5 separate regions of the Homo sapiens genome follow, and regions 1, 3, 4 and 5 are each linked to region 2. Evidence: fine-mapped expression QTL. A gene starts in region 2. Each other region holds a variant in brackets. All regions are shown on one strand. Distances are between the middles of the regions. Region 1 overlaps CRACR2A (calcium release activated channel regulator 2A). Region 2 holds the start of CRACR2A (calcium release activated channel regulator 2A). Region 3 overlaps PARP11 (poly(ADP-ribose) polymerase family member 11). Region 4 holds the start of PARP11 (poly(ADP-ribose) polymerase family member 11). Region 5 overlaps CRACR2A (calcium release activated channel regulator 2A).

Region 1 (5,942 bases), 70 kb before region 2:
TATATGGCTTTTGATGTATCTGATAGGATAGTGTGTCTGGTTTCTTTATATTGTTCATAGATCTCGATTCTTCTTCCTCCTGGTTACCTTGAGAATGTCTAGTCTGTTCAAACCTTCTAGAAATTCCTCTGATAGCTGTTATCCCTCAACCTGGAAAATTCAGCCAGACTTGGGTTGGAATGAGCCATCCAGTTGTCCCACCTTTTGGCCATTTTTCTATGAAGGCAGAAAAGGAGAGGCTGCAAATCTCATCACAGCTCCCCCTTTTATGCTATGGCTTCTGCAGAGCTTCCGTCCATCTCCCTTGCCAGTCCCAGTGGGAGGGAGCTTGGTAATGGCAGTGCAGTGGGCACTGAGCAAGCGGCAATGTAAGCAGTTGAGACGGGCATGTGAGGAGGCCCAAGCAATCTAGAGCCTGGAGACCTTGAGCTCCAGGTCCCTGAAAGGAGGGCAGGAAAGCTTTACTACCTGCCCCCCAGGTCTACAAGGGACAGGAATGCACCTTATACAGTGTTAGGTAGACCCATAACCCTGAGGTCCCCAGCACCCATCAGAACTTACTAAATCCAGTAGTGAACTCCTGTGGGGTCAGATAGCCATTGCCATCAGCATCCAGGGCATCAAACACATCCTCCAGTTCCTCCAGGCTGAGCGGTAGCTCCTTATGCAGCCTCTGAAAACAACCCAGAGTGTACTGGTTAACACTGACACTCACTGGTGGGGGAGGTGACCTGGGACTGCAGAGCCTTCTGCCAGAAAGTGTCTAGAGTTCGGCCCAGTCCTACAAAAGCCAGTAGAAAGCTTCTGCATCCAGACTGCTTCACCATCCCTCTCCTCCTTTGCATGTTAGCACAACTACCATTGATTGGGTGCCTACGAATGTACTAGGCCATTTGCTAGGTGATTTATAAATAAACAAATATGTAAATATGCATTTATTTATCTATCTGCATTTAATTCCCATGACAACACTCTGAGCTAGGCACTATTATCTCTGTTTTACAGATGAAGTTTGAGGTGAAATTACCTGCTCCAAAGTCACATGGCTAGTAATGACATAGCCAGGAGTCAAATCCAGCTCTGATTCCAAAGCCAGCACTCTCAACATCTGTAAAGGACTCAAACTGTACAGGACCAAATACTTTCAGGATAATACTCACACAGCATGGTGCTGTAAAGTTGAATGCAATCATGAATGTAAAGCATATAACAGTGCCTGCATACAGAAAGCATTCAATATAAAGTAGTAGGGAGGCAGAGAGAGAGAGAGACTCATGGCCCACTGAGGCCCCTCAAGGAAGTACGTGGCAGAGCCAGGCTTCAAACCCTGTCTTCCCTGCTCTCCCTAAGCCCCCTTTCCTCTCCCGTACCACGATGCGGGTGCGGGTCACTTACTTGAGGCCTCTCCTGCTGGAGGCCCCTGGTGTCCCATTGCCTCAGCACTGCATTTGTAAGTGTCTGTGGACACACATTTTGGTGCTTGAGCTCTGAGGGGATATGGGATAATCCCCCTTCCTACCTCTGAGTGACCCACACCCAGGCCCCGAGTCCAGGTTCCACTCCAGCTCCCTGCTGACTGGTAAGGAATTCCTAATAAGATCTCAACTGCCATTGGCTTAAGGTATCAAGGCCCCAAGAGTATTTGTGTGTTAAAGGGGGACTGGACAAGATAGTGTGAGGAGGTTATCGCTGGATTTGAGTCTAGAGCAGACTCAGACCTCATAAGGAGGGAAGGGCAGAGAACAATTAATAGGCCCAAGAGCAAAGCAGCTGAGCTGTTGCTGCTCCCTTCTGGCCTTCTGCCCGATGTGCAATGGCCCCAAGCCAAGGCTAACTTGCATAGATGAAGCAAGTGTACCCTCATACCCAAATAATCTAGGTCTCCAAATGAGAACTCCCCAGAGAGTTATATCTCAGCCGATCCTCTCCCTTCCTCCCAGTTACCTAAGCGGTAACCGTGCGAAATTGCCAGTGTGGAAGTGACTGACAGCTGAAAACAATGAATGCGGGGCTTTGTAAGAAGAAAGGTATATACCAACCTCAACAATAAAAAAGAGCTGGCAGGTGTGAAAGCCCATAACATAATTGGCAAGAATACTTGGCTTGATCCTATGGCAGTTCTAGCTGATAAGCCATAAAGCTTAATTTGGCAGGTACATGCATTAAGGGAGACTATGATGCATTATAAAGTGGGAAGACAGGCTGATGTGGAAGCCATTTAGAAGAATTGAATTAAATATGAATGGGCTTTTCAGAAAAGGAAGGAGAGTGAGAGAGAGTGTGCAAAGATTCTGGAAGTATATCTGCTTAGCATTCAGCAGAATCTCTGACTTATCAACAATCCATAAACCAGCTGTCTCAAAAGCTACAGTAGGAGAACACGGGTGAGGAGAGAGTCAATTTTGCAAGCAGGGATTTTATTAGCATCATTGGAAATAAGAAGCATCACACCTGAGGTAGGGTAAAAGCGCAAGCTCCTGTCACGCTCACATTCCAGTCCTTCCTTTGGATTATCCTTCCTCCTTCCCCA[C/T]CCTCAGACTAGGATTGCTGGATCTGATTCAAAATGTGGTCTCTCGCACTGGGCTGGAGCAAGAAATGAGCTGCAAGAAAATTCCAGAGATCAACGGGACCCTCAACATGCCTTTCACTCAAACACCCCACACACTTTTCTCATGTTAGCATGAACCAGGAGAGGCTAGTTCACAGCTCACCTTAGGCACCATTCCTGAATCCAGCAGCACTTCGAACCCCAAATCCCCCTGTTGTCTAATCCCAGTTCTTGTCTACATCTCAAGTCAGTTTCCTCCTCCCATTGTCAGCAAAGATGGGGAAAGCAATATTATAGGTTCCAAGTAATTCTTACTACTCAAGTGCTGGCAAGTCAGCGCTGAGTGCTTCTTCAGCCTTCTCTGCAACTGATTCTATACCTGATTCTTCACTACACCTGATTCTTTCACCTTGTTTTGTTGGCCCTCCTTGAAAAATCTTTTAGTCTTAATAACCATAATTATCTCTTATTTATCGCTCTGCTCAGGGCCTACAGAGCCACAGAAAACCAGCTTATTCTGGTATGGTCCCCTGGTACTGTTTACATTATTTTTATTATTTTTATTATTACTTTTTTTTTTTTTGAGACAGAGTCTCGCTCTGTCACCCAGCAGAGTAATGTGATCTCAGCTCACTGCAACCTCCGCCTCCCGGGTTCAAGTGATTCTCCTGCCACAGCCTCCTGGGTAGCTGGGACTACAAACGCCCACCACCACACCCAGTTAATTTTTGTATTTTTAGTAGAGACAGGGTTTCACCATCTTGGCCAGGCTGGTCTTGAACTCCTGACCTTGTGATCCACCTGCCTTGGCCTCGCCTCCCAAAGTGCTGGGATTACAGGCTTGAGCCACTGGACCTGGCCTACATTTTTAACTAAGTGAGATAAGCAGGGTGGAGGGGAGCAAGATTATTTATTCCACTGTGCAATAGGCCTGTGAGGCTCTGAGATTAGCCTAAAGTCACAGTGCAGACCACAGCTGGGAAAAGAACTGATTTTCCATCCAGGGCTTGAGCAACTGTCTAATAGTTCTCCAGGGCATTCATTCTGTTATTCCCTCACCTTCATTACCTCCCACACCTACCCACCTACCAGCACCACCAAAATCAGAACACAAAGTCTCTCTTGCCAGCACCAAGACCCAGCCTTCCAGAGATCCTGTGGCACGCACAGCTTTTCACACACCTGGAAGGGTGGGCCAGGGAAAAAGAGAGGCATGAGGAGGAACTCAGCTTCCTATTCGTACTGCCCATGGCCCTGGGAGCTCTTGAGAACTCCTTGGCTCCTTTAAACACCAGCCTCACTCTTTCTTCACTCTCAGCTCCTGCGTCACTTCCTCCGTAAGGCCTTTGCACCTCCCCAGGTTAGGTCAGGTTATACAAGCTCCCCAAACTACCTTTCTCTCATTCATAAATCTTTCCCAATTAGCATTTTATATACTGATAGATGTGACTCATTGATGAACGTCTGCTCCCTCAGTGCTCTGAGAACAGGGACCTCATTCGTTAGGCACTGTTGTGTCCCCAGGATCTAGCCCAATGCTGACAAACATGGACTATTTAGATAAGTGTTGAAGGAAGGCATAGATAAGCGCTTGACTAAGAGCAATGGCAGGAGACCCTGAGCTCCTATGTACAGAGTGCTGGTCTAGACCTCACACACTCCAGAACCTGACCAGCCCAACTGCTAATTCTCAGCAAGACTCATAGTGACTGGCAACCTTCCAGAACCTAGAACATGAGGCATCTACAGCAGCAGTACTGAGAGTTCATGCCCCAGAGCCACGGGAAAGTGATGTCTTTTGTTGCACTCCAGCCAGGCTCCTTTACCTTCCTAGTCACCAGCCCAGTAACATACCCCATGTAGCTTAAAGTGTATGGTTGCACAGCTTCAAACATGCTTCCATGACATTTTTATTGAGGAAAAAATCAGAGGATATCCATTTTTTATGTCCAGAATTACACTGTCCCTCCTTTTGGGGCAATCACAGCATTCTTTTCAGACCCCCATTCCAGCACCAACCACCCTCTTCCCTGTGGTACAGTTCAGCTATACCAAATCTCTCTAGGACGAGAGTGGGAGGTGGGAGGGCAGGATCAACCTTTATCCTGCTTTGCACCTTGATGTGCTTGGCTTGGGCTGATTACGTGGTATAGGCCACAGTTTCTCAACCTTGGCACTACCGACATTTTGGAATGGACAATTTTTGGTTAAGGGGGTAGTGGAGGGGAAGGCAGGGGAGGGACCATCCTGTGTATTACAGGATATGTAGCAGCATCCCTAGCCTTTGCCTGCTAAACGCCAGCAGCACTTCCCTCACCAGTCGTTTCAATAAAAAATGCCTCCATACATTGTGTAAGGAATATGGCTGTGCTTTGGTCAAAGATAGACCGAGGTAGAATGTTTACATCCTGCGTGAGTCAGCAAGTTTAGAGTGCAGGCGTATAATTCCACTTGTTATCACAGCCATGTAGCCATAACATGAGAAGGCCATCACTTGGCTGTACACCACTATTGTCTGTAAAAGATATAATTGTCCTGTTGACACTGTGCAGGCATGCTTGCGCTTGTGCCCAGAGAAAGAGAGAGAGTCAGAGCTGCCTGTCATTGCAGACAGACTGCGGGGAGCCAGGACACATGCCCAAAGAAAGAATTAAGCTGCTGACCCTGAAGGCAAGGGAGAGCGGGCCACGCAGCTGTGTGTGGGAGCCGCCAGATTAAGTAGCCAAGACAGGGCGGACAGTGTGAGAAAGCTGTTGATGAAAGCTGCTGCTGAATAAAACCATATTCACCTGCCTACGGCCCCCTGAGTATTGTTTCTGCTCATCCACTCATTCCCTCCGGACCTCAGCATGGGCTGGAACCTATCCCCAAGCATGACAATTGGTGTAGTTGTGAACATGACACATTGCCATATGTCCTCCAGGAGGCAAAATTGCCGCCACTCATGTAGATTGGACACAAAGAATAACAGCAGCTGGATACGAGTGGAAGGTTCCCTTTTCAGCAGAAATGCCCGTTTCTTTTCTCTAAGACAGGACAGACAACTTGCACCTTAAAATTACAATGTGATGGTGCAGCTATTGTATAAAATGGTATGGTGTCTCCTCAAAAAATTTACAAAATAGAATTATCCTATAATCCAGCAATTCCACTTCTGGGTATACACACCAAAGAATAAAAAGCAAGGTCTTGAACAGATATTTGCCCATCCATGTCCATATCAGCATTATTCACATATAGCCAACAGGCGGAAGCTACCCAAGTATCTACTGACAAAGGAATGGAGAAACAAAATGTGGTATATACATACAATGGAATATTATTCAGCCTTTAAAAATATTCTGACACATGCTACGATACAGATGAACCTTGAGGACATTATACTAAGTGAAAT
Region 2 (5,798 bases):
ATTTCTGTATTTTTAGTAGAAATGAGGTTTTGCCACGTTGGCCAGGCTGGTCTCGAACTTCTGACCTCAGGTGATCCACCCGCCTCAGCTTCCAAAGTGCTGGGATTACAGGTGTGAGCCACCAAGCCTGGCCCCCAGGGCTATTTTACAGGAAACCCTGGAGGCTCCTCTGCAAGACAGCGGCCTCCATGTGTGTCAGTGCAGAAAGCAAAACCTCTGGAGCCCAAGGGCCTGGACCCATTTCTGCCACTCACTAACAGCTGACAAAGGACCATGATTTCGCAAAGACTCAGTTTCTCCATCCGTAAAATAGGGCAGACTTGTCTCTAGAACACCGTGATTCTATGACATTGTAAGAGGCCGTGGACCTGCTCTTAAGATCCTGAATTCTGCAATATTCTGCAATATTTGGCAATTACATCTTTTAGCTCTTCTCTAGGGGAAACATACGAGGGAAACAGGGCCTTGGAAAATATAAAATCTGAACTAATTCTCACCTAAGGTATCATGGCAAGTGCCTGAGTCCTCTGTGCATTGCAACAAAATAGACACTATTTTGTGTGGAAGAAAAGCAAGAGAGAGATGTGAACTCAGTGGGTGATTAGCCTGTCCCTGAGGAATCCCTCACTAGCTCTCCCCTAGCTTCTCTCAGCTGCATTGCCAGTACCCAGGCAGCCTGCAGATTCAACCCTCCCTCCCCACAACAGGTTCAGCAAACCATTGCAACAAGGAGCCCCAAGGCAGAATGGATGGCTACTGCGGCCACTGCCCCAGTGCTGGGGCCTGCCTTCTGCAGGCTCACCACAGCGTGACGCATCTCCAATCACCCCCCACACCTGGGGTTCCATCTCTGTCAGTGGCATCACCAGCCACTCTAACTCTGGAATCCAAATCGCCATCATCTTGGTCTCTTCTGCTCTGGTCCCTGACATTTATTCAGTTACCAGATTGCATCTACTCCATTGTTCTCTGGGTTAAAATCCCCATCCCACCACTTATTTTCTGTATGACCTTGGATAAACCACCTAACCTCTCTCTCAGTTTCCTCCTCTACAATATGGAACAATCATAGCAATCTCCTCATGAGGTTGTCAGGAGGATTAAATGAGATTAAACATGAAAATCTCCTACCACAGGCCCTGGCACATGGCAGATGACTTTTCCCCTACCCCCAAGCCTTTTAGCCCCTTCCTGTCCATTCCCACCAGCCCTGTTCAACCCCTCATGGTGACTGCAATGGGCTTCTTCCCAGGTTCTCTTCCCACAGCTTCCTCCACTGCAGTACATCCCATACCCAGGTGCAGATGACATGTTCTTCTGAACCCAGCTCCAGGAACAACACTTCCCTTCTTAGAAACCATCAAAATATCCCTAGGCTTAATAATGAAGTTTCTAGACTCGTAACACTCCAAGCCTCTGCCATCTCTCCCAGGCAGCACTCCTCACCGGATTGTCCACTACATTACTCCTTGCTCCTCAGGTACAACCCACCTTCACGGCTTTGCTCAGCCGTCCTTCCCCAAGATGCCCAGACCCAGCCTCCTATTCAAGGCCCGGCCTCAGTGCCACATCCAGGACGCCCTCTGCGAGTCACTCCTTCCAGAAGTAACCTCCCTCCTCCAAACTCCCTCTACACACTTTATAGTATAGAACCGAGAGGTGACAGGACCTCGGAAGCCGTACCTGAAGCCTCTCACTTATAGAACCGAGAGGTGACAGGACCTCGGAAGCCATACCTGAAGCCTCTCACTTATCACTTAAAAACTGCGCATGAAGTAGCTCTTATGGGCAAATACTAAACCATGAGGTTGTACATATTCATTTCACCTGAAAAGGGGCATGAACTCTGGACCCTTCAACAAAAATGCTGATTCCACGTGGAGCAAACTGCTCTGATTTCATATCCCTATGCCCACATCCTTGATAAAAAGACTCTTCGGTACATGCTGCTTTCTTCCAGAGACAAGGAACCCATCACCTCATGAGTTAGGTTCTTCCTCCTGACCCTCTGACCACCCTGGGGACTCCCACGGATTGGCTCTTTCTGTCCTCTTGAGTCACACAGAACGAATTCCTTTGAGACTCCTGGTGTCCTCCACAGAGCCAAACAGGGCAGGTTCCTAAGCACACTGTGTAAACAGATAAATGAACTCAGAGGGCTTTCCCACGTGGCAGGGTACATTCGCTGCATCCCGTGCATGCATGGGTGCACAGACACACACTCGCACACACACGGACACACACACACACACACGGACACACACACACAGACACACACACACACGGACACACACACACACGGACAGAGTCAGCACAACGCCTCTGAGCCACACAGCCAGGCCAGCACACGCGGGGGCCAGGGCGGAAGCCAAGCCCCAGCAGCCGCCCACTTCCTGACCTCCTTCCTTTGCTCTGGGAGGTTCTCTCTCTGTGTCTTTCTGACTGTCTGTCTCGGTTCTTTGTTTCTCGGCATGGCAACAGTTGTGGATGCTGCCTGCGTGGCCAGGGCTCCTAGTAGCACTGACCTGCAAGGTAGGAGTTTTGGTTCTTAGACTTGAGACCTTGGGCAAGTCACTTTACCATTCTGAGCCTCAGTTTCCTCATCTGTGAAATGAAGAGGCTGGATGAGGCTGGAGGGTTCCTAAGGTCCTTTCCTGACCAAAACCCTAGTGCTTCTCGGCTCTCCTCCAGTCCCGTTACCGAGTGACAGGGAGGGGAGCAAGGGCCAGGCCAGGCCTGGGGGTGGCAGGGGAGCCAGCTGTTCCCCCCCAAGGGCACACAGCCTCCATCCAGGCCCTCTGCGAGTTCCATGTGCGGCAGACACGCGCTCACACTTCGCAGCCGGAGGAGCAGGCAGGAAGCGCCGCCCCCCGGCCGCCCCGGCCGCCCACCCTCAACCTTCCTCCACGTTACCTTGGGCGTGTAGGCTTCCCGTGGACCTGCCCGCGCCGCCCGCTCGGCTCTCAGCTGTCAAGCAGCCGCCTGCTCCGCCCGACTCTTTCCGCTCCGAGCCGCGCGGGCTGGACCAGCCCCTCAGCGGAGCTGAACGGGAAGCGGCGCCCCCTGGACGCCCTCCGGGACGTGCGCGCGCCAAGCGGTGGGGTCCGGGCCTGCAGGCGCGACCTGAGGCCGCCAGGGAGGCTGGGTGGCGAGGGCGGGGCGGCTGCCGACTTAGCCGGCCTGACTGGTCGGGCTTCCGGGGTCCCGCTGCTCCCTAGGCCCCTTGCCCCGATTCAGGCTCCCAAGGTGGGGCATCAGTCCGGCCCTCGCTGGCTCACTGGAGAGGTGGTGTCTGGGAGTGCACCCCCGAAAACCCGGCAGCAGCCCGGCGTCACTCCGGCTGTTACCTCTGGGAGCAGAAACTAAAGGGGATCCTTATTCTTTATACTTTTCTGACTCTTCTATATATTCTACTGTGGGCATGAATCGTTAAAAACAAAACAAAACACCAAAAACCCAATACGTATTTGTTAATAAAGCACTGAGTAAATCTTCAAAGGCCTCCCGAGGTGCTCCGGCTGCAGGATAACCCCTCAGCTTAGCGCACAAGGCAAGGCCCACCCTGCCCTCTCCGGCCACAACCTAATTTTCCAGCCTCACCCTCTCTCCCTCACACACACACAACACTTTCGCTCTGGACACACTAGCTGTTGCCAAACACCAGCTGTTCTTCATGGCTGCTGGGAGTTCTTCTTTTTGCCTGGAACACCCTCCCCTTTCATCTCTGCCTGTTGAAATCCTACTCATCCATCCAGGCCCCTCTGAAATGTCACCTTTTTGGAGAACCCTTCCCCAGACACTGCCCCTGCAGAGTGCCCCAGTTCTTTCCTGGCAAGCCCATCTTTCTGGTACTGGTTTATGTAGTAGCATCCCCCTCTCACACGCGCTAAGTCCTATTCCAAGGTGGAGAGAAACAAATTAGCACTTACTGAGCAGCTGTTATAAATTACTCTGTGGAGTCCTTTCTTCTCCTTGCAGCCCAGCCAGCCACTAGCCCACAACCTCCCTCCACCCTGCCAGAGTTTCAGAAGGCTGTCAGGGGCTCTGAGGCCTGCCCTCTGGTGTGTCCCTACTGCGTGCCTTGGCTTTTCTGGCTCTGTCCTGGGTATGCTTCCCTGTGTCAACTCCCAAGGTCTGCAAGCTGGTGGCTTGACCTTCTCTCAGCCTTATGTGAGGAAAGAAGGACATTTCATTATCAGAATCTGAGAAGTGGAAGGGGCCTCAGAGATTATCCAGTGTAAAGCCTGCCCACCCATTTTACAGAGCAGAAAACTGTGACCAGAGAGATAAGGTCAGAGGCATCGGAGGTACCTACCATTGTTATTGTTGTTTTTAATAGTGTTAATACTTGCACGTTTAGATCGCCTTTCACTTCTAAATCAATGCGTTGTCATTCATTTGCCCCTTACAGTCTCAGAGGTATTACAGTGGTTAGTGCACAGACTCTGGAGGCCAAAGCCCTGGGTTTGAATCTCAGTGCTCCAACTTGCCAGCTACGTCCTTGGCAAGTTACTGGAACTTTCTCCATCAGTACAATGTGGATAGTAACAGCTCCTGCATCATGGGGTGTTCTATGAATCGAAATAAATGTGTATCTTTAAAGGGCTTAGAATAGTAGTAGGTTCATTAAAAATGCCAAATGTATTTGCTCTTATCAAATTTTTGTTATTGTTAATTGTATCACTTCACAGTTGGAATAACAGAGGCTCAGAAAGGCTGAGACTCATCCAAAAAATTGCTGCTTTGAGGATGGTTTCTCACCAAACTCCATGCAGTCATCTTTGTCTCTGATGCCATTCTGCTTCCTGTTCCCTTGTGTCTGAGTCTAACCACCTATTTAATAGGGAAGAAAAGCAACTGTCCTTTAGCCCACCTCAGAACACCTAGACATTTCATGTTGCAAACATTAACCACATCTTCTGGCTTCTATGGGGATGTCTCTAATTTGCTGGCGTTTTCTTTAACAGAACACCACGCCTCATGGTGCCCTTCAGAATCACAGAGCCATCACATTAACTGCTGCAAGTTCAGCTTGTACATTCGTGCCTCTTTTACTCTTGGCCCGTGGCAGAAAAGCGACAGGGAAAAGATGGTTCTTCCAATGTATGGATGTAGGAAACTGAGGCACAGTTGATACTCACTGATTGGCCCCAGGCTATGGAGCTAGCCTGGACCATGGGAAGGATGAGGATCTCCACCTCCTCTTTCCCCATGATTACATGATTCAGTGTTGCAGGAGAAACCCAAACTCGTTTATTCAATGAGGATTTATTGAGCTCTCTCTAGGTGACGAATAAGACCGAGGCAAGGCTGGCTTCCTGGGCATATGACCTATGAAGTCACATAGGCCAGAGGTCCCCAACCTTTTTGGAACCAGGAACCTGTTTCGTGGAAGACAATTTTTCCATGGACCAGGGGTGGGAGTGGGGGGTGGGAATGGTTTCAGGATAAAACTGTTCCACCTCAGATCATCAGGCATTAGTTAGATTCTCATAAGGAGTGTGCAAACTAGATCCCTCACATGCACAGTTCTCAATAGGGTTCACGGACCAGTACCCCATTACCGGTTTGTGGCCTGGGGTTGGGGACCCCTGACATAGGCCACTCACTTAGAAGGGCTTCATACAGAGTTTAATGCTGTCCTGCCACCTTCTTGAAATCTTAACAATTTTTGAACAAGGGGCCATATAAGTTGTATTTTACACTGGACCATTCAAGTTGTACAGCTGGTCTGGACCTAGGCTCTTCCCTAGGAGCTCTGTTTCACAGGGAATCAGCCAGGGAGTTGACAACTGCAG
Region 3 (5,942 bases), 82 kb after region 2:
CAATTCCTTATCAAATTACACTATTTTTTTCGTCCACAATCCAATGTGCAGGAGAGATAAGTGATTATTTTCCAATTAAAGTCAGGAAAAAAACCGAAGCAGAGAATAATACAATTTTTTGTCTAGATTCACAGCTAGCAGTACAGAGAATATTAAAGCAACACCTAAGGCCTCCTGAACATCACTTCTTCCCCTAAGTTACCAAGCCCCACTGTCTCCTTTTCACACATGGACAGTTATTTCTCCTCTCCTATGTTGCTAACATTTAGTTTAATTGCTTTGCTTCACAGATGCTCTGGGTTTCTTTAAAAAGATGCATTTTATAAGATTAAACATTTCCATTTTCTACAGTAAGTTTTCTCTCCAAAGAAATGACTATTTTGCATAATTATGCTCAAAGAGTTAAGTCAAATTTAAATTAATAACTTTAAAATATCGCAACCATAGTAAGAATGGCTCTAGGCTAGGACACATTTATAGGTAATAAAAAGAATATTCACCAGTTATCGGTTATGAAGCAGGTATTTAATAATGTTAGATGAATGAACTTGTTCAGTCACAATGCCATATCCTGTCTGATTTTCCTGTTTGTAATTAGAAGCAGGCTGGGAAGAAGAAAAAGCTAGTACAAAGCGGCAAAGCATTTTGTAAAGTTTCAAGGGCAATGGGTATGCTGGTAGAGCCTGTCCGTAATGTTATCTGTTACAAAGAGAATCTTTATTTACAGAGCCTGGGAACAGTCAGTCTGAATCATCAAATTGAAAAGCTGTGTGGAAAATGAGTTTAAAGTCAAAATCCTGGTCTATATAAGGAAAATAAGGCTGCCTTCCAGACTGGTTTCAAGTTTTCTGATATAAATTTTAGTTTACTACAACAAAGTATAATTTATTTTGTTAGCATGAGTATAGTATCTTCAGGAAATCATATTTGGTAATAACAACTTCCTTGCCTCTACATATAAAGAAGATCTCAAACCTGATCTTAAAAGCTTAAAAATGAACGAGAACTTCCAGAATGACAGAATAAGGAGCTCAGTGGAACTGGCAAAACTACATTTTAAAAACTAGTAGGCCGGGCGTGGTAGCTCACACCTGTTATCCCAGGGCTTTGGTGAGGCTGAGAAGGGAGGTTTGCATGAGGCCAGGAGTTTGAGGCAAGCCTGGCAACACAGTGAGACTCCATCTCTACAAAAAAATAAAATAAAAATTACTCAGGCATGCTGATGCATGCTTATAGTCCTAGCCCCTTGAGAGGCTGAGATGGAAGGATTACTTGAGCCTAGGAGTTTGAGGCTGCAGTGAGCTAACATCACGCCACTGCACTCCAGCTTGACACGGCAGAACCCTGCCTCACAAAAATTAATTAATTAAAAATTAAAAACTGCTGAAAATTTTTTTAAAAAACAAACATTTAAAGTCTCTGGAAACTGTACTAAGGGCATACAAAAAGTGGAGAAACATTCATTCAAGAAAATGTACTCAATCTCAGAACAAGTCAGAGTCTGTGGCGTTTGAGTTACAAACTGCACCATTCCCCACATCCTACCAGGTCTGTATTATGAAGCCTCTACCTGCGGTATATGTACCCAAAAGACAGGCAGAGGGCTCCCTCTCCCTCAGGCTTCCAGTCTGTGGCTAGTTTTACCCCGGGAAGGGCAGGCTGCTGGTGTTTCTCCTCTCCTTCAGCCCAGAGGTGTAGAAGCTCTGTTCTGGAGAGGTGACACAGAGGACCCGTCTCTCTTTCCCTACACAGCCCCCATTCAAAAGGTAGAATTTCTATTCCAGGTACAGCAGGCTGCAAATACTGGGCCCTGACTGCCACCGCCCCAACTTCCTCCCAGAGTAGAGGTTTTGTGCCAGGAGCAGTCAGCTAAGAAGACCAAGGGCTGCTACCAGCACTCCACTGCCCACTCTAAGAATGGAGTGTTACTCTGGGGAAAAAAGACTCTCACCTTCAGCCCCAGGAGCAGTGGCATGGAGACTTTGCTCAGGGGTAAAGACGAGCCATAAGGACAAAGAGCTCTACATTTCCATCTGAGAGGACTGACTTTATTTGGAACAGAGAGCAGAACCCCATGCCTAAGGGCATTATCAAAAACAGTGGGCCGGGTGTGGTGGTTCATGCCTGTGATCCCAGCACTTTGGGAGGCCAAGATGGGCAGATCACCTGAGGCCAGGAGTTTGAGACCAGCCTGGCCAACATGGTGAAACCCCAACTCTACAAAAAATACAAAACATTAGCCAGGTGTGGTGGCGTGCACCTGTAGTTCCAGCTACTCAGGAGGCCGAGAGAAGAGAACTGATTGAACCCAGGAGGCAAAGGTTTCAGTGAGCCAAGATCACACCATTGCACTCCAGCCTGGGCGACAAGAGCGACACTCCATCTCAAAAAAAAAAAAAAAAAGAAAGAAAGAAAACAGTGGAAATATTAATGAAAAACAATTAAGAAAGGCTAGGAGCTCCAATATAAGCAGAAAGGCAGAGCAAGCAGAAGTTTAATGCAGAGAACCAGAGACAGCCAAGAAGAGCCCTCTTAGATCAGAGAGGAGTCAGAAAGGCAGTATAAAAACACTAGGCTGTGTACACCCAGGAATGATCAGGGCAGAACGTGGGGCAGTCTTGAAAACGTTCTCTAAGCTATACACGTACCCACTGACAGAGCGGAGAAACTTCATTGGCACAAGGGTCTGAATCACCACCTCTGGCCAAACACGACGTAACAGAAGCTACTCTGACCCAGGGGTAATTCCTATGAAGCCAGGGTTAAATGAAACAGCACTGTCATCCCTGACAGTCTGGAACACTGTGTACATGCTCAAGGTTGGGCCCTCTCAGGAACTAACTTCCAAGCTTCTAGCACCTGGCTAAATGCAGGACAAAAAAAAATGTAAACTCCCTGAACTATAATAGCAGCCACCAAGCCACACACACATTTAACACTTAAGGGTAAAAATCTACCTACCTCAGGGAATGTAAGCACAACCTGTGACCAGTACATAGTCTATGCCAATCCAGAAATGCCACATAAGTAGTCAGGTTAAGAGGGGAAAAGTCTGAGCTGGGATATCAGAAGCTACACACTGTGAGGAAAATGGACTTTACAGAATTTGTTCAGCTATATCACTGTTATATACACATAAACCAATAACCAAACAAACAACCACAATAGGGATCAGTATCCAGAGTTGCTATGTTACTTAAAATATCCAGTTCTCAACAAAAAAATTATGAGACATAAAAAAACTTCATAAAGATGTGATCAATACACATAGAAAACCAAAAGAAGCTGCCTCTAGATGAGGCACAGGTGGTAGACTGGGCAAACAAACACTTCAAAGCAATTATTACAAATATGCTCAAA[G/A]ACATAAATGAAACTTTGCTTAACAGGTTAAGGGAAATTATGATGACAATGTCTCATCAAATAAATAATATCAATAAAGAGAGAAATAATTTAAGATAATCAAATGGAAATTCTGGAGTTGAAAAGTATAGTAAGTAAAATGAAACACTCTAGAAAGGCTCAGTGGTAGATTTGTGAACAAGAAAATATCAGCAAACTTGAACATAAATTAATAGACATTATGTAACAGATGAAATGCAAGAAAGGAAAGAAAAAATTGCAGAAAAATAAACAGAGCATTAGAGAAATGTGGGATACCATTAAGTGCACCAACATATAAATAACTACAGTATCAGAAGCGGAGGAGAGAGAAAAAGGCACAGGAAAAACTTTAAAGAAAGTAAAACTATCCAAATTTGTAAATTTTATATATATATACACACACACATATATATATATACACACACTCACACACATATATATGTGTGTGTATAGATATAAATCTACACATCCAAGAAGCTCAATAAATTCCAAAAGGGAAAAACACAGAGATCCAAATGCAGACACATCAAAGTCAAAATTTCGAAAGCCAAAGACAAACAGAAAATCTTAAAATCAGCAAGAGAAAAACAACTGATCACATATAAGAGAATCCTAATGAGATTAACAGCTGACTTTTCTCATCAGAAACCCTAGAGGCCAAAAGTTAGGAGACATCATTCTCAAAATACATAAAGTAAAAAACAAACAAAAAAAAAGCGCCTATCAACCAAGAATCTTATACTAGCAAAACTATCTTTCAAAAATGAAGGTGAAATAAAGATATTGCCACAATTACAAAAACTGAGAGAATTCACTGCTAGCAAACTTGCTTTACAAGAAATAATAAAGGAAGTTTATCAGGCTGAAATGATACTAGGCATTCGTAATAATCCATGGGGGATAAAAAAGAAAAGAGCGCTGGTAAAAGGTATAATTGCTGATTTCTCCTTTCCTCTCTTGACTGATTTACAAGTAACTACATAAACCAATACATGAACTGCCAGTTCCAAGATGGTGGCACAGAAGAAAGCTGGCTTTGCTCCCTGCCCCCACAGAAAACCAAAAACAAATACACAGCACCAAGATTATCGCCAGCAATATCCCAGAATGCAAATATTATGTAGGGAGAGACAGTTCCCAGGGACACAGAGGAATGAAAAAACTCTGAGCAGACAGTAACGGAATTGGATTTCCTCACCCACGATGCCTCACCACAAAATCAGCCCAGCATCAAGCATACAGAAAACTTTCCCCTGATTCATGATTTCTACACTGGAAAAAGTGAGATTAAGGTGGCCAACCAGCTTTCCCACCATCTTGGGTTCCCTGACAGAAGACCTGTCCCTACCTCAATCTACAGGAAGCACTGGGAGTACCTGAAGGGAGAACTATCCCTGAAAACAGCCAGAGACAAAGGAGTCAAGTAGGACTACAATCCCTAACCCTGGAAACTGCTCTGTAACTCAATCAAAGGAGACGACACCAAATCAGAGTGGCTATTCAGCAACACCACATTGTAGGAGCTTCACTCCACAGGTTTCCCAGGCACAAACTCCAAGTCAGCCTTCCCGCACTGCCAGGATAACCTCTCTGGTACCTCTCCCACTCAGCATGGGCAGTGTCCTAATTATTTACTAGAGCTGAGAAAAACCTGAGCGTAAGGCACCATCTAGTGCTTAAAAGGAGGCAGGCCTAGTGGGTAAAAAAAGATACTCAACAGCTAAATTACAAAGATCTCTAATCTCTCTATAGTACAACTTGTTGAATCTACAAGATGTGTTTGTAAGTCTTGCGGTAACCATAATGCAAAAACCTATAATAGACCCACTAAAAATAAAAACTAATGAGTTAAAACATACGACCAGAGAAAATCACTTAACCAGAAAGGAAGATGTAAGAAAGGAAGAGAGCAGTTACAAAACAACCAGAAAATAAGCAACAAAATGAACTAGTAAGGACGACTTTATAAATAATAACCCTGAATGCAAATGGACTCGCTTCTCGAATTAAAGAGCACAGAGTGGCTGAATGGCGAAGAAAAAAAAAAACCAAGATCCAAATATATACTACCTACAAGAAACCGACCTCACCTATAAAGACACACATGAGGATGAAAGTGAAGGCATAAAGATGTTCCACGCAATTGGAAAACAAAGAAGAGCAAAGAGTAGCTATATTTATAAAGAGATAAAATAGACTATGAACAAGTCCTGTAAAAAGAGATAAAGAAGGTCAATAAATAATGATAATGGGGTCAACGAAGCAAGTGGACATAATTATAAATATCTATGCACTCAACACCCAAGATCTTAAGTATATAAAACAAACATTAATAGACTTAAAGTGAGGGGTAGACTGCAATACAGCAAAAGTAAGAAACTTAAAAAAATAATAAAAAGGGACTTCCAGCCAGAAAATCAACAACAACAACAACAAAAACAAAAAACACATCAGATTTAAACTACATACTAGATCAAATAGGCCTGTCATTTACAGAACATTTCACTCAATTGCTGGAGAATACACATTCTTTTCATCAACACATGAAATATTCTTCAGAA
Region 4 (5,942 bases), 120 kb after region 2:
CCTGGCCAACACAGTGAAACCCTGTCTCTACTAAAATACAAAAATTAGCCAGGTGTAGTGGTGCACATGTGTAGTTCTAGCTACTCAGGAGGCTGAGGCACAAGAATCACTTGAACCCAGGAGGCAGAGGTTGCAGTTAGCCGAGATCATGCCACTGCACTCCAGCTTGGGTGACAGACTACCTATAGACACTGAGGCTCAAATTTCAATTTCCAGCCCAGCCTTCTTCTCTGAGCTCCAGACTTACCTCCCTAACCAACTGCCTTCCAAACTTTACTACCTGATGCTTCATAGGCACATTAAACATAGTGAGTCCAGAACCAAACTCCTGTTATCTTCCATATGGCTCAGTGAAAACATCTTATTCCTGGCTGCCCATGCCAGAAAGCTAAGTCATCATCTAAGATGCAGCTTGAATTGATCTCCTCTCTCCCCACTTAGTAGTCACCTTCATAGGTGACTTCATACTTTCCCCACATAGTCCAAGTCACCTTCGTCTCTACCCTGGACTACACTATAACCTCCTAATTAGTCTTCCTACAGCCCCTTATCCCCCTCAGTATTTTCTTTTGCTGCTAGAACAAATTACCACAAACGCAGTGGCTTAAAAACAACACTAATTTATTTTCTTACATTTCTGAAGAAATCTTACATGCATCTCAATGGGCTAAAATCAAGGTGAGTTTGATTCCCTTCTAAAGGTTGTATGAGAGAATCTATTTCCGTGGTTTTTCAAGCTTCTAGAAGCTACCCACATACCTTGGCTTGTGACCTCCTTCCTTCATCTCCAAAGTCAGCCATGTTGTATCTCTTTGACCATTCTTCCATAGTCACTCCATGTCTTTTGTCCCCATGTTCTACTTTTAAGGACCCTTGCGATTACTTTGGGGCCCCCCTGGATAATCCAAGGTAATCTCTTTATCTTAAGGTCAGCTGATTAGCTAATTACCTCCCTTTTGCCATGTAACAACATATTTACAGATTCTGGGTATTAATATGTGGATATCTTTAGGAGGCCATTATTACGTCTACCATATTTTCTAATACATAAACTCATTTTCCACACATCAGCCAGAGTAATCTTTTTAAAAACATAAATATGTTCATGACACTTCCTTCAATGTGTTACCACTCCTCTAAGGATAAAGTTCAAAATCCTAAACATGTGCCTCAAATCCATGCATGGCCTGGTTCCTACCTCCTGGGCTTGTCTTCTGGTGCACTGTGTCCCAGCCACATAGGCTTCTCTCTTTTTCTCAAGCACCAAGCTCCTTTCTTTCTCAGGATCTTTGCTCACACTATCTCTGCTGTCTGAACAGCTCTCCCCACCTTCCAGCCAACCTTTACCTGGCTAACGCTTGCTCAATCCTTCAGATCTCTATAAAAGTTACTTTCACAGGGTGGCCTTTCCTGATTGCCCAGTCTAGTATTAGCTCCCCCTACACTGTCATAGTACTCTTTTTCTTTCATATCTTTTTATCACAATTTAAATTAAATGTATTTGCATAATTATTTGTTTAATATCTGCCTGCCTGCACCAGACTGCAAACCCATAAAGGCTGGAGCCTAGTCTGTTCTGTTCACCACTGTAAACCCTGGGACTTCGCACTAACTAGCTTATAACAGGTGCTCAATAAATAAGTGAGTGACATTACATGTTATTATATGACCAGCAGGCAGGTAGAGTATATGCAGTGTGGATATGCTGGACAAAGGGATGATTCGTGGCCCCAGGCAGGATGGAGCACAATGGCATGAGATTTTATCACACTACACAGTACAGTATGCAACTTAAAAGTTATTAATTGTTCATTTCTGGAATTTTCCATTTCATATTTTCAGACCGCAGCTGACTTCTGGTAAGTGAAATTGTGGTAAGTGAAACCAGGAAAGCGAAACTAAAATAAACTAACAAATTACTAGAGAAACCCACACGTAGAATGTTGATTTTTAAAACCAAATTGCGCTTACTGATATCATTCATATGCTTATAGGAAGAAAAACTATTAGTAGTAATAAAATACAGTAGCAGTAAGACAAATATGTCTTATTTGGGTGGCAAAAGAAGAATGTGAGATGATCTGTGGAGGATTCCCCACTTTTAACAAAAGTCAGCCTGCTCTGCTGAAATTAGCAAAATCACACAGGTGATTTCAAAGAAAACCCATTGCTTACAAAGAAATGAGATAATGATATAACAAATCAAGTATATAAGACATTCATTAATGCCTTTATAATTCTCACAAACACACAAATAATCCAACAGCAAATTCTGATGTATGTGTGACGCAGGAGGGAAAATTCATAGTAGGAGCAAAGAATTATCTTTAGTCCTTGCTGGTACAACCACCATCATGAATTCAACAAATATTTATTGAGTGCCTACTATGTGTCAGGTTCTGTTCTCTAGTTGAAGATACTATAGGAAAAATAACAGAGAAAAACCCCTGTCCTTGTGGATCTTACAATATAGTGAAAGATTTAAAACCTTGAGTAAGACATATACTTGGGTGGCTAAAGGGTTTGTTATGGAAAAATTAAGAAGGACTGATAACAAAAAGGGAATAATAGCTACATAAAGATATAAATACAAAATGAAGGTTGTTGATGACAGATAGTGAAACTGAATATATAAGCAGAGAGCACATTCTCATTA[T/G]TCTAAATTATTTTTGCTAAAATCAAATACAAGTAATTACTTTCCTCTAATGCAGCTTGAAGAGAGTATTATACGTATGAATCGAAAATACTAAGATGATGACTATTGTTATATGATGCACAAGAAGGAACCATAATGTGCAACTACCAAATCCAGACCAACAGACTAGTTTCTACTGGATAAAAACTTAACTTAAAAACATAGGGAAATGTACTGATAAACTTTCTAACTTATCTGGAAATATATTCCAGAAATGAGAGGGGAAGAATACTGATTATAGGAAATTATTGCAAATATGGAAATTAGGGGTTATTAAAGTAAATTTATGCAGTTATCTCAGCATAGGAGTAGTTTCTTATGTTTCATACACAATTATGCATTGCATAAAAGCTTTCAGTCAACCATGGATCGCATATACAAGTGGTCCCAAAGATTGTTAACACTTTATTTTACTGTATCTTTTCTATGTTTAGATACATAAATACTTTCCATTGTGTTACGAATGCCTACAGTATTCAGTACAATACTATGCTGTACAGATTTCTAGGTTAAGAGCAATAGGCTATTCCATATAGCCTTAGGTGTGTAGCAGGCTTATGAAAGTACACTCTATGACGTTGGCACAATGAAAAAAATCACCCAGCAATGAACTTCTCAGAACATATCCCCATTGTTAGGAGGCGCACGACTGTATTTAGTCCAACAACTTGCTGAAATGTGATTCTACCATTTTTCCAGTCAACTCCTAAGTTTTAAATACCATACATCTGCCACCTTACCAGGCAGTTTCAACCATAACAACAGAAGAATACTCTTGGCAAATAGATCCCACTCTCTGAGGGTTGTGTTGGGGCTCAGAAAATACTACCCCGAAGTATGACACTTTGGCATGCTGAATACTTTGAACTAAAAGAGATTGGAAGGCCTCAGAAGCAGCCTCGGAAGCAGTCTCTCCCTCTGATCTCCTGCCCTTCTGTCTCCTGCCCATCTTTCGTCCCAGAAGTGAGTCACAGAAACCAGAATTCTTCCCCAAGGTGAGTGATAGAAACTAGGATCCCTCTCCTACAAAGCAAGCCATAAAAACTGGAACTATTAAGCTTTCCCTGCCATTGTCTATAGGAACTGGCCATAAAGAAATTCTCTAATCTACCTTGCCTGATAGTAGGTCGCTAAGACCCTCATTCCAGAAGGGACCTTCCTCCTCCGTAGGAGGAAGAAATGATACACAGAGAGGCCAAGAAGAATCTGAACAAACAGACCTTGCTGGGCTTCCTTCCTCAGTTTATTAACATTAGAGTATATCCTTTGTCCAGTCACATTTTTACACAGTTGTCTATTCTTCATGGGTCCTACGCATAAAAATAGAGATCTCCCTGGTCTCTGAAGTGCCTGGTGGTGTAAAACTTTGATTAGATTTGCTCTGCTTTTACCTTGTTAACCTATCTTCTGTTTTAAGGAGTGGTGGCTGTGATCCTTACAATGGGTGGTGAGGAAAGGTACTAAAGTTTTCGGCCCCTACGTTGCACTTTAAATAAATAAATGTATAAAAGCAAAGTAGACAAAGACACATGAAGTCATAATGAAAATACCAGAGTCAGCCAAGGAAGAAGGCAGACTTGCAGTTGAAATGCTCCAGATCACTTTGTCCACCGAACGAAAACATCTAAGAACATACAGTCCATACTCCAAGTTTTAAACGACTGTCCACCAAGAAGGGAAAAGGAGAACTGATGGCTCCTCTTAGGCCCATTCAAGACAAGGGGGTCCCAATTCCCTTGCTTTAGACTGGTGGGACTGGCAGGTAAACCTGAGGCAAATGACTGACTACAGGTTCCAAGGCCAGTTACTCCAATTAGAAAGCAAAACACAAAGTTTCAAAAAACAGTGAAGGCAGTCGGGAGGCTGAGGCACGACAATCGCTTTAACCCGGGAGACGGAGGTTGCGGTGGGCCGAGATCACGCCACTGCACTCCAGCCTGGACAACAGTGCGAGACTCCGTCTCAAAAACAACAACAACAACAAATGGTGAAGGGATGAGGCTGAAACATCACGGGAAGTAAAATAAATAATTGTAACAAGAAAACAATAAAGCATTGGAGAATCCACCCAGGCACTTCCACTGCTTAAAAAGGTACAGACTACAGAAGCCAAAAGGCCCGGGAACTCCGGTCCCGGAACTCAACACCCAGACTGAAGCGAGCGCGGGGAAGCAGTTCCGGTGACCCCCTCCCGCCCCTCTCTCATCAACCCCGCCCCCTGGGCCCGCCCCGTCCCGCCCGGCTACTCACTGGATTCGCTTCCCACATAACGGTGACAAAATCGAGCGGAGAGAGCCTGTGGGAAGGGGCTAGCCGCGGGGCCTGGGTGTTGGATTTTTTTTTTTCCCGCGGGTCCCCGGGAGCGAAGGGACGGAGATGCAACCTTTACGAAGGCCTTCCTCCTCCCCCTCCCTGTCACAAGCCAGCGTTTACAGACCACCCAACCTCCCGACTTCCGCCCGACGTTGGCCAGTCAGATCTGTCTCCGCCCCACTCCTACAAGCTCGCCCCGCCCCTGCACGCTTATCCATACGCGCGCGGGCGGTCGTCCTGGGCGGGGCTTGCGAGTCTGTGTCTGACGAAGGAGTTTAAAGGGTTTCTGGTCCAACTGTATCACCCAGTGATCTTAAAGCCACGGCTGGCTGTATTTCTTTCCTATGAAACAAATTTTTATTGATCACCGTGTAACGACCAAGAGTCACACAGGCCTGGCAATGGCATTTGGGAGAAACTTCATAATCTTTCAATATCTTCATCCTCAAAATGGAGATGGTAGTAATATCTCCCTATGAGTGAGATTATTGAAAGCATTTAGCACAGTATTTGGCACACAGAGTTCAATAAGTGACGGTTATTTGCTCACAAGGGAACCTTTACATACTATCCCTGCCCTCAAGATTTTATAATCTAGAAAAGAAAGCAAAAAGTAGTTTAGAAAAGTTAAAAAGTGCAATATGATTTATAGGTAATATGGTGAATAGAGAGTGCTATGCGAGCATATTTACCTAGAGTAGAGTGTCAGGAAAGCTCCCTCAAGATGTTTAAAACCATGAGGATGTATTCCTACTGATGTAAAGAGAGCTAACAGAGTGAAATAATCTTCCATGCAACAAAGGATCTACCCCATAGGAAATGAAAATTAAACAGCTCATTATAGATCCTTCTGGACTTTTCTATGCCTCTACACATTGAAAAAAATGTAATCAAAGAATACCTATAGATTTAGAACCTGATTTTTTTTTCACTT
Region 5 (5,942 bases), 23 kb before region 2:
CGTATAAGTGTAGCGTCATGATAATTTATTACGCTGTGATATGGGGCAGGATAGTGACAAAGTGTCACAGAAAACATGTTTCCAGTCTGGAAATCCCACCCACTGTGTTGAGGCATATATTCGGTCTTTAGCAGTAAAGAAAAAAAAAAGAAAGAAAAGAAAGAAAGAAAAAAAAAAGTGGCTGGGCGTGGTGGCTCACACTTGCAATCCCAGCACTTTGGGAGGCCAATGCGGGTGGATCACAAGGTCAAGAGATTGAGACCATCCTGGCCAACATGGTGAAACCCCGTCTCTACTAAAAATACAAAAATTAGCCGGGCGTGGTGGCACACCCTGTAGTCCCAGCTACTCGGGAGGCTAAGGTGGGAGAATTCCTTGAACCCGGGAGGCAGAGGTTGCAGTGACCTGAGATCGCACCACTGCACTCCAGCCTGGCAACAGAGTGAGACTCTGTCTCAAAAAAAAAAAAAAAAAAAAGCTTTTAAAATGACATCCTTATAGTATGGGCGGTGAGAAGAAGAGGATGGATTGGGAAAAGTTGTTGGGTAAATCTTGAAGGAGAATATCAGAGTAAGAAGGAAGAACAAAAGGCAACCCCAAAGAAGTAACCATGATAGCTAATTTTTGCAAGAGATTTCTTATCATTGTACTACAAATATAAATATATGTGATAAGAATATTATTTTTAAAACAGCTTTTATAAACAAGTTTGAGGCGCCTCTGCTAATTTAAACTAGTATCTAATTCTACATCGGCTGGATGAAGTCTCAGATTTCCTGTTACAGACCTGCGCATGGGTTCCTTGCTTTGCGGTCACTGCATATTGTACTGTGCCCTTTTCAGTTCAGTGTATATTTGGAAATGCTCTGATCTAGACAGAATGCATGAAGCAGGGAGATCATCTCGTCATTTCGAGGTTTTGTCTTTATTCCATTTAGGCTTCTCTTCCTAAAACAACCATTTCCTAAATACCGGGCTTTTGGCTTAACTTCTTTGAAAGTGTGAGAGGCATTACTCTAGGGGACAGCCTGACCCCATTAGAAACACTCGCCAAACAAGGGCTGAAAAACTACCTATTGCATACTATGTTCGTTATTTGGGTGATGGGTTAATTAGAACCCCAAACCTCGGCATTATGCAATATCTCCATGTAACAGACTTGCAGGTGTACCTCCTGAATCTAAAAAAAAAATAAAATAAAATAAGGAATACTGATCAAGTGTAACCTCATTCATTTCTGTAATGAGGAAACAGGCCCAAGAGGGTAGGCCAACTGTAAATTTTGCTCTCCTTCCTGTCACTAAGTTCCTTGAGGGCAAGGAGGGTATGGGATACTTCTTTTGTATCTGCACACAGCTGCCAGCACAGAGCAGCACACATACCTGTCTGTGGCCCTAGACGTGCCTGCTGTCTGTATTCCATCAGGACTCTGGAGTCTCCTTTTCAACCTGAAAACCACTCGTTTCTAATTACTCATCCATAGGAAACACAGGCAACGGATCCCCAGAAGTCACTTGGGACTGAGTTTCAACACTTTTGTTTCACACAGTTTCAGCACTCACACCAGCTGCAGCTGAAGACCATAGCACTTCAATGAAAAGCAACTGACTCCCTCCCCAACCCCTCTGCCCGTAGGCTGCTGTGGTTAGCACTGCACTCAGAGAAAGAATAAATAAAAAGCAAAAGCCCCAGTTGTTCTAAGATAACCACAGAGATGACAGATGCTGTTGCATGCAAACTTGCGGGAGAAGAGAGATAAACAGCACATTACAAATCCAACAAAGCATGGTGACGAGAAGCCTTGGCGGGCAAGTCCCGTTGCTGAGGTGTGACTTCAGAGATCAAGTGGAATGTGCCCTCTTGGTCCCATCCTCCCCTCACCCCTGCACTCTTCCTCTTTCAGCTGGCTGGGTTTAGAATTTCTTCAGTAGGGAAGAGGATTTTGCCCCGCTGGAAGAATGCTAACTCTCAGGATGAGTGATACTTTGGGAGACCCCCAGCCCCCAGCTTACAGGATAAACAAATGGCCAGGAATGAGAAAAGCTGAGGTGGAGCAGCAAAGGGAGGGAGGGTTCCTTTGGCCCACCTTTCAACCCCGAGTGGCCTCCAGAGAGCTGCCAGTTGTGGTCATGTTCATCCTGGGCTGCGGGCAGAAGGATGGCTCAATACCTTAGCTCATAGCCACCACTTCTGGGTCCCACTTCCTTCCTTCATCAAGTAGTGTAAAATGACGAGGACCCAAGACAGCTGGAAGCCACTCGCCTTGTTGTCCATGGTTGCTCCATGGCGTATTTGTCTCTTTTGTCACATTCTGGACACAACCCAACGCATCCATGTCACCAATACCACATGTAGCTGGTGGCACTGCAGCTTTCTGTTGACCTGCCTGAACTAGCCTCCAGGCACCAGGCTTGTCACTCACACCGAGCGCAGTGCCTGGCATTCAGAAGGTGCTCAATACATGTTCTTGGATTGAAAGAGCAAAAGGGCAGGGGAGCCAATTCCACTCTATGAAATGGGAAAAGCTGTCAAGGAACAGCCGTCACGTTAGTTATGAGACCACAGACGCATTGTCACCCACCTTTTTTGCAGTATGTAGCCATCTGGCCCATTTTCAGAGCTGCTCTTATCTTTGTCACGACTATCATCTCCACAGCATCAGTAATGACAGACTTAGAAGGTGAGAGGCTTAACTGTAAACCACTCCTTATTTAAAAAGACTTTGGGGCCGGGTAAGCTGGCTCATGCATGTAATTCCAGCACTTTGGGAGGACGAGGCAGGCAGGTCATGAGGTCAAGAGATCAAGA[C/T]CATCCTGGCCAATATAGTGAAACCCCATCTGTACTAAAAATACAAAAGTTAGCTGGATGTGGTGGTGTGCACCTGTAGTCGCAGCTACTTGGGAGGCTGAGGCAGAAGAATCACCTGAACCCGGGAGGCAGAGGTTGCAGTGAGCCAAGATTGCATCACTGCATTCCAGCCTGGGTGACAGAGCGAGACTCTGTCTCAAGAAAAAACAAAAAGACTTTGGGAGCAGCATGATAGATTGGCTAAAATGTCAGGTTCTAGTGACAGAAAAACCTGGGTTCTGATCCTAGTTCTTCTGTGTGCGAGTTATGAGTCTTGGTGAAGCCACTTCACTCTGCTACTGTTTCCTTGTCTGGAAAAGTGAGCTAGTGCTACCACTGCCTTGGGGGGTCTGCTGAGAGAATCCATGTAATGGAGCAACACTTCTGACTGTCTTGTATTTCATTTTTATTGCTGGTCTCCATGCAATTACTCAGATAGTGCACAAAAGCAAGAAGAGAGCAGAGTTCTTTCCCTTCCACTTTTCAGCTCCCGAGATGAAAGCCTGGACATGGCAAGGCAGGGGCTGCAATCTCAAGCATACAGAAGATTAACAGAAATGGGCCGAGTGGGCAGGGGCCGATGAAGAAGAATCGCTTTCATATTAAGTCTGCCCTCCTCCCTCTGCTGGAAAAAGACAGCCTCCTTGGTTTTCAGTTTCCCCCTTGAAGAGACATGAGTACATGAGTGATTTCCCTTCCTCCTTAATACTCTATGAGAGAAACAGCACAATGTTGCTAGATGGCAGTCAACGCTCAGGCTGAACGCAAGAGGGTCAGCAAGAGGTGGTGGGGAAGATGCCAGAGCGGGGCAGGGAGGTCTCTTTAAAAGGACAGCTGCTACCCAACCCAACCAGTTGTCCACATACTAGAACTGAGTGTTTCCAGTTCTGTTGATTATTCAAAGATTTTTCAGAATTTTTAAATGTTACACACGTTCAGGGTCAACATGAAATGGCAGGTTTATTCCGTGCAGTGTTTCTTGTAATATTAACAGCAAATGACTAAAAACAACCTGTGTTCATCAGTAGGGGATTGCTAAATTATGGTAAATCCATACAATGGGATACTATGCCCCTGTAAAAAAAGAATGAGGAAGCTCTCCACATACTGAGAGGGAAAGATCACCAAGATAAATCGAGTGAAAAAGGCAAGGTTAAAAATAGTGTGTAGAGTCTGTTATAATTATGTAAGAAGTAGAGGGATGAGGCAGATATATATTTGTACTGACTTTTATCTGCAAAAAGAAATCCTGGAAGGTTGTATAGGAAACTAATAAAAGTGGTTACAAGGGAGGGGCAGGGCAGGACTGGCCAATGGAGGCAGGGATAAGATTTCGCCGAATACCTTTCTATAGCGCTTTAATTTTTGAACCACACAAATGTATTGCTTATTTGAAAAATAATACAAAAACACTGTATACACCAGCTACTGGGAAGAAAACACATCTACAGGCTACGAACAGCCTGCAGGCTTCTGGGTTGCACCTTCACATTAAGGGCTCCAAAACTGGAGAGGCAGAAAAGTTGGCAGCATTGGATCCAAGCTTTACTAGGTGTGGAGACAAGTAGGTTGTTCAGTATCTGGTGTCTGGAACTCTCTCTGGATTGCCTGGCAATGAGCTAGTTGGGCCCAGCAGCCTCCGCCACCTCCAGGGGGAAAGTGATGCACTCCCAGCCTCTCTGGAAGAGACTGCTCCAAAACTCAACTTCCCGGGAAACTGAGGAGCTCCAGGGTCACCAGGTGCTGGGCAGACAGAATTTCCTGCCATTCCTCGATAGTTAAGGCTGCCTGGAACCCCAGTGGTGTGTTCCCCCCATCAAGGCTCTGTCCCACTTGTCCCATACAAAGGAGAGCGATAGGTGAGTGCAGTTCCTCCTCTGGAGCACAGCATCCAATGTGTCCAGCTGGGCCCCAGCTCAGCACACCTCTCTAGTGAATGCTGAGAACAGAGGACATGCTCCCCTGCTGACACTGCTGCCAGTCACTTTCAGGCAGCACCATGGAACACCATTCATATTCACCCCGGCCCTTTGTATGTCCCTAGTCTTGTCACTGTGAATGAGCTCACTTAGTGTGGCAGCTTGAACTGTGATCTCCACATTGAAGTCCTAACCCCTAGTACCTCAGAATGTGACCTTCTTTGGAAACGGGGTTGCTGAAGATGTAATGAGTTAAGATGAGGTCATACTGGAGTAGGGCGGTTCCTAATATGGCTGGTGTCCTTATAAAAATGGGAAAATTTGGAAACACACACACACAGGGAGAATGCCATGTGATGATAAAGGCAGGGATTGGAGTGACGCAGCTGCAAGCCAAGGAAGACCACAGTCGGCCGGCAAATCGTCAGAAGCCAGGGCGAGGCAAGGAGGGGCCTCCTATACACCACAGAGGGGTCAGGCCCTGCTGATACCTTGGTTGCAGACCTCTCGCCTCTAGAACTGGGAGACCTGACATTTCTGTTAATCACCCAGTTGGTGGCACTTTGTTAAGGCAGCCCTAGGAAACTCATACACTCAGCAACCTCAGGCCAACTCGGGTGGCAAAAGTACCCGCCATTGCTCCTTCTCAGCAGGTGCCCAACAGATACTGGTGACAACACTGCTCCTATGAATGAAGATCCCAGGACCTGGCCCGGTCAAGTGTATTGTGTCGGAATGCATCAAATAGTCAACCAATAAACAATGGCTGAGTACCCGACCTTGTGAAGAATGCAAAAGACATAAAATATTCCATTACTACCCTCAAGGAGTTGACAATCTGATTGAAGATTCAAGAAAGACATGTGTAATAATGGCCAAATTAGTATTATCTTCCCCCAGCCCTCACCCACGACCAGCAGATGCCACAGAAGTCACTCTTAACTAAATTGCACTGTGCTCCCAGCTGGATTCAACCTTCTACTGCATCTCATTTCGCTGCTCCCTGCATGTGTCTGGAAGAACCGCTTTTCCAGCTCTCCAGGACATTCTTTAGGATGTCAGGCTACTAGACAATTTCTAGAAGCTGTCGCCACTGCTCCTGGCATGGAGCCCACACTTCTTGCCCACTGCGGACACCCACTCCTGGCCAGAATTGTCTGCCACCCCTGGTGAAGC

The links. PIP is the estimated chance that this variant, and not a neighbour inherited with it, causes the effect.
Region 1: its variant is fine-mapped to the expression of CRACR2A in whole blood (TOPMed, PIP above 0.99).
Region 3: its variant is fine-mapped to the expression of CRACR2A in whole blood (INTERVAL, PIP above 0.99).
Region 4: its variant is fine-mapped to the expression of CRACR2A in whole blood (INTERVAL, PIP above 0.99).
Region 5: its variant is fine-mapped to the expression of CRACR2A in whole blood (TOPMed, PIP above 0.99).

The regions. Positions count from the first base shown.
Region 1 is chr12:3,679,677-3,685,618 of GRCh38, forward strand. CRACR2A (calcium release activated channel regulator 2A) reads right to left here. Exons shown (of 20, transcript NM_001144958.2): 5 at 562-673. Among named protein-coding and RNA genes, the nearest start is that of CRACR2A, 70 kb to the right of the region's middle. The variant C/T (reference allele first, on the strand shown) is at 2,531.
Region 2 is chr12:3,750,102-3,755,899 of GRCh38, forward strand. It overlaps CRACR2A (calcium release activated channel regulator 2A), which reads right to left and starts at 3,008. Exons shown (of 20, transcript NM_001144958.2): 1 at 2,914-3,008. RefSeq lists a silencer at 2,743-3,242.
Region 3 is chr12:3,832,249-3,838,190 of GRCh38, forward strand. The region is part of intron 1 of PARP11 (poly(ADP-ribose) polymerase family member 11); the gene reads right to left. Among named protein-coding and RNA genes, the nearest start is that of PARP11-AS1, 35 kb to the right of the region's middle. The variant G/A (reference allele first, on the strand shown) is at 3,361.
Region 4 is chr12:3,868,267-3,874,208 of GRCh38, forward strand. It overlaps PARP11 (poly(ADP-ribose) polymerase family member 11), which reads right to left and starts at 5,133. Exons shown (of 8, transcript NM_020367.6): 1 at 4,946-5,133. The coding sequence starts at 4,963. PARP11-AS1 (PARP11 antisense RNA 1) reads left to right here and starts at 1,906. Exons shown (of 2, transcript NR_183432.1): 1 at 1,906-3,690. RefSeq lists a silencer at 4,801-4,910 and an enhancer at 5,582-5,942. The variant T/G (reference allele first, on the strand shown) is at 2,657.
Region 5 is chr12:3,726,697-3,732,638 of GRCh38, forward strand. All of the region lies in intron 2 of CRACR2A (calcium release activated channel regulator 2A), which reads right to left. Among named protein-coding and RNA genes, the nearest start is that of CRACR2A, 23 kb to the right of the region's middle. RefSeq lists a silencer at 2,141-2,240. The variant C/T (reference allele first, on the strand shown) is at 2,809.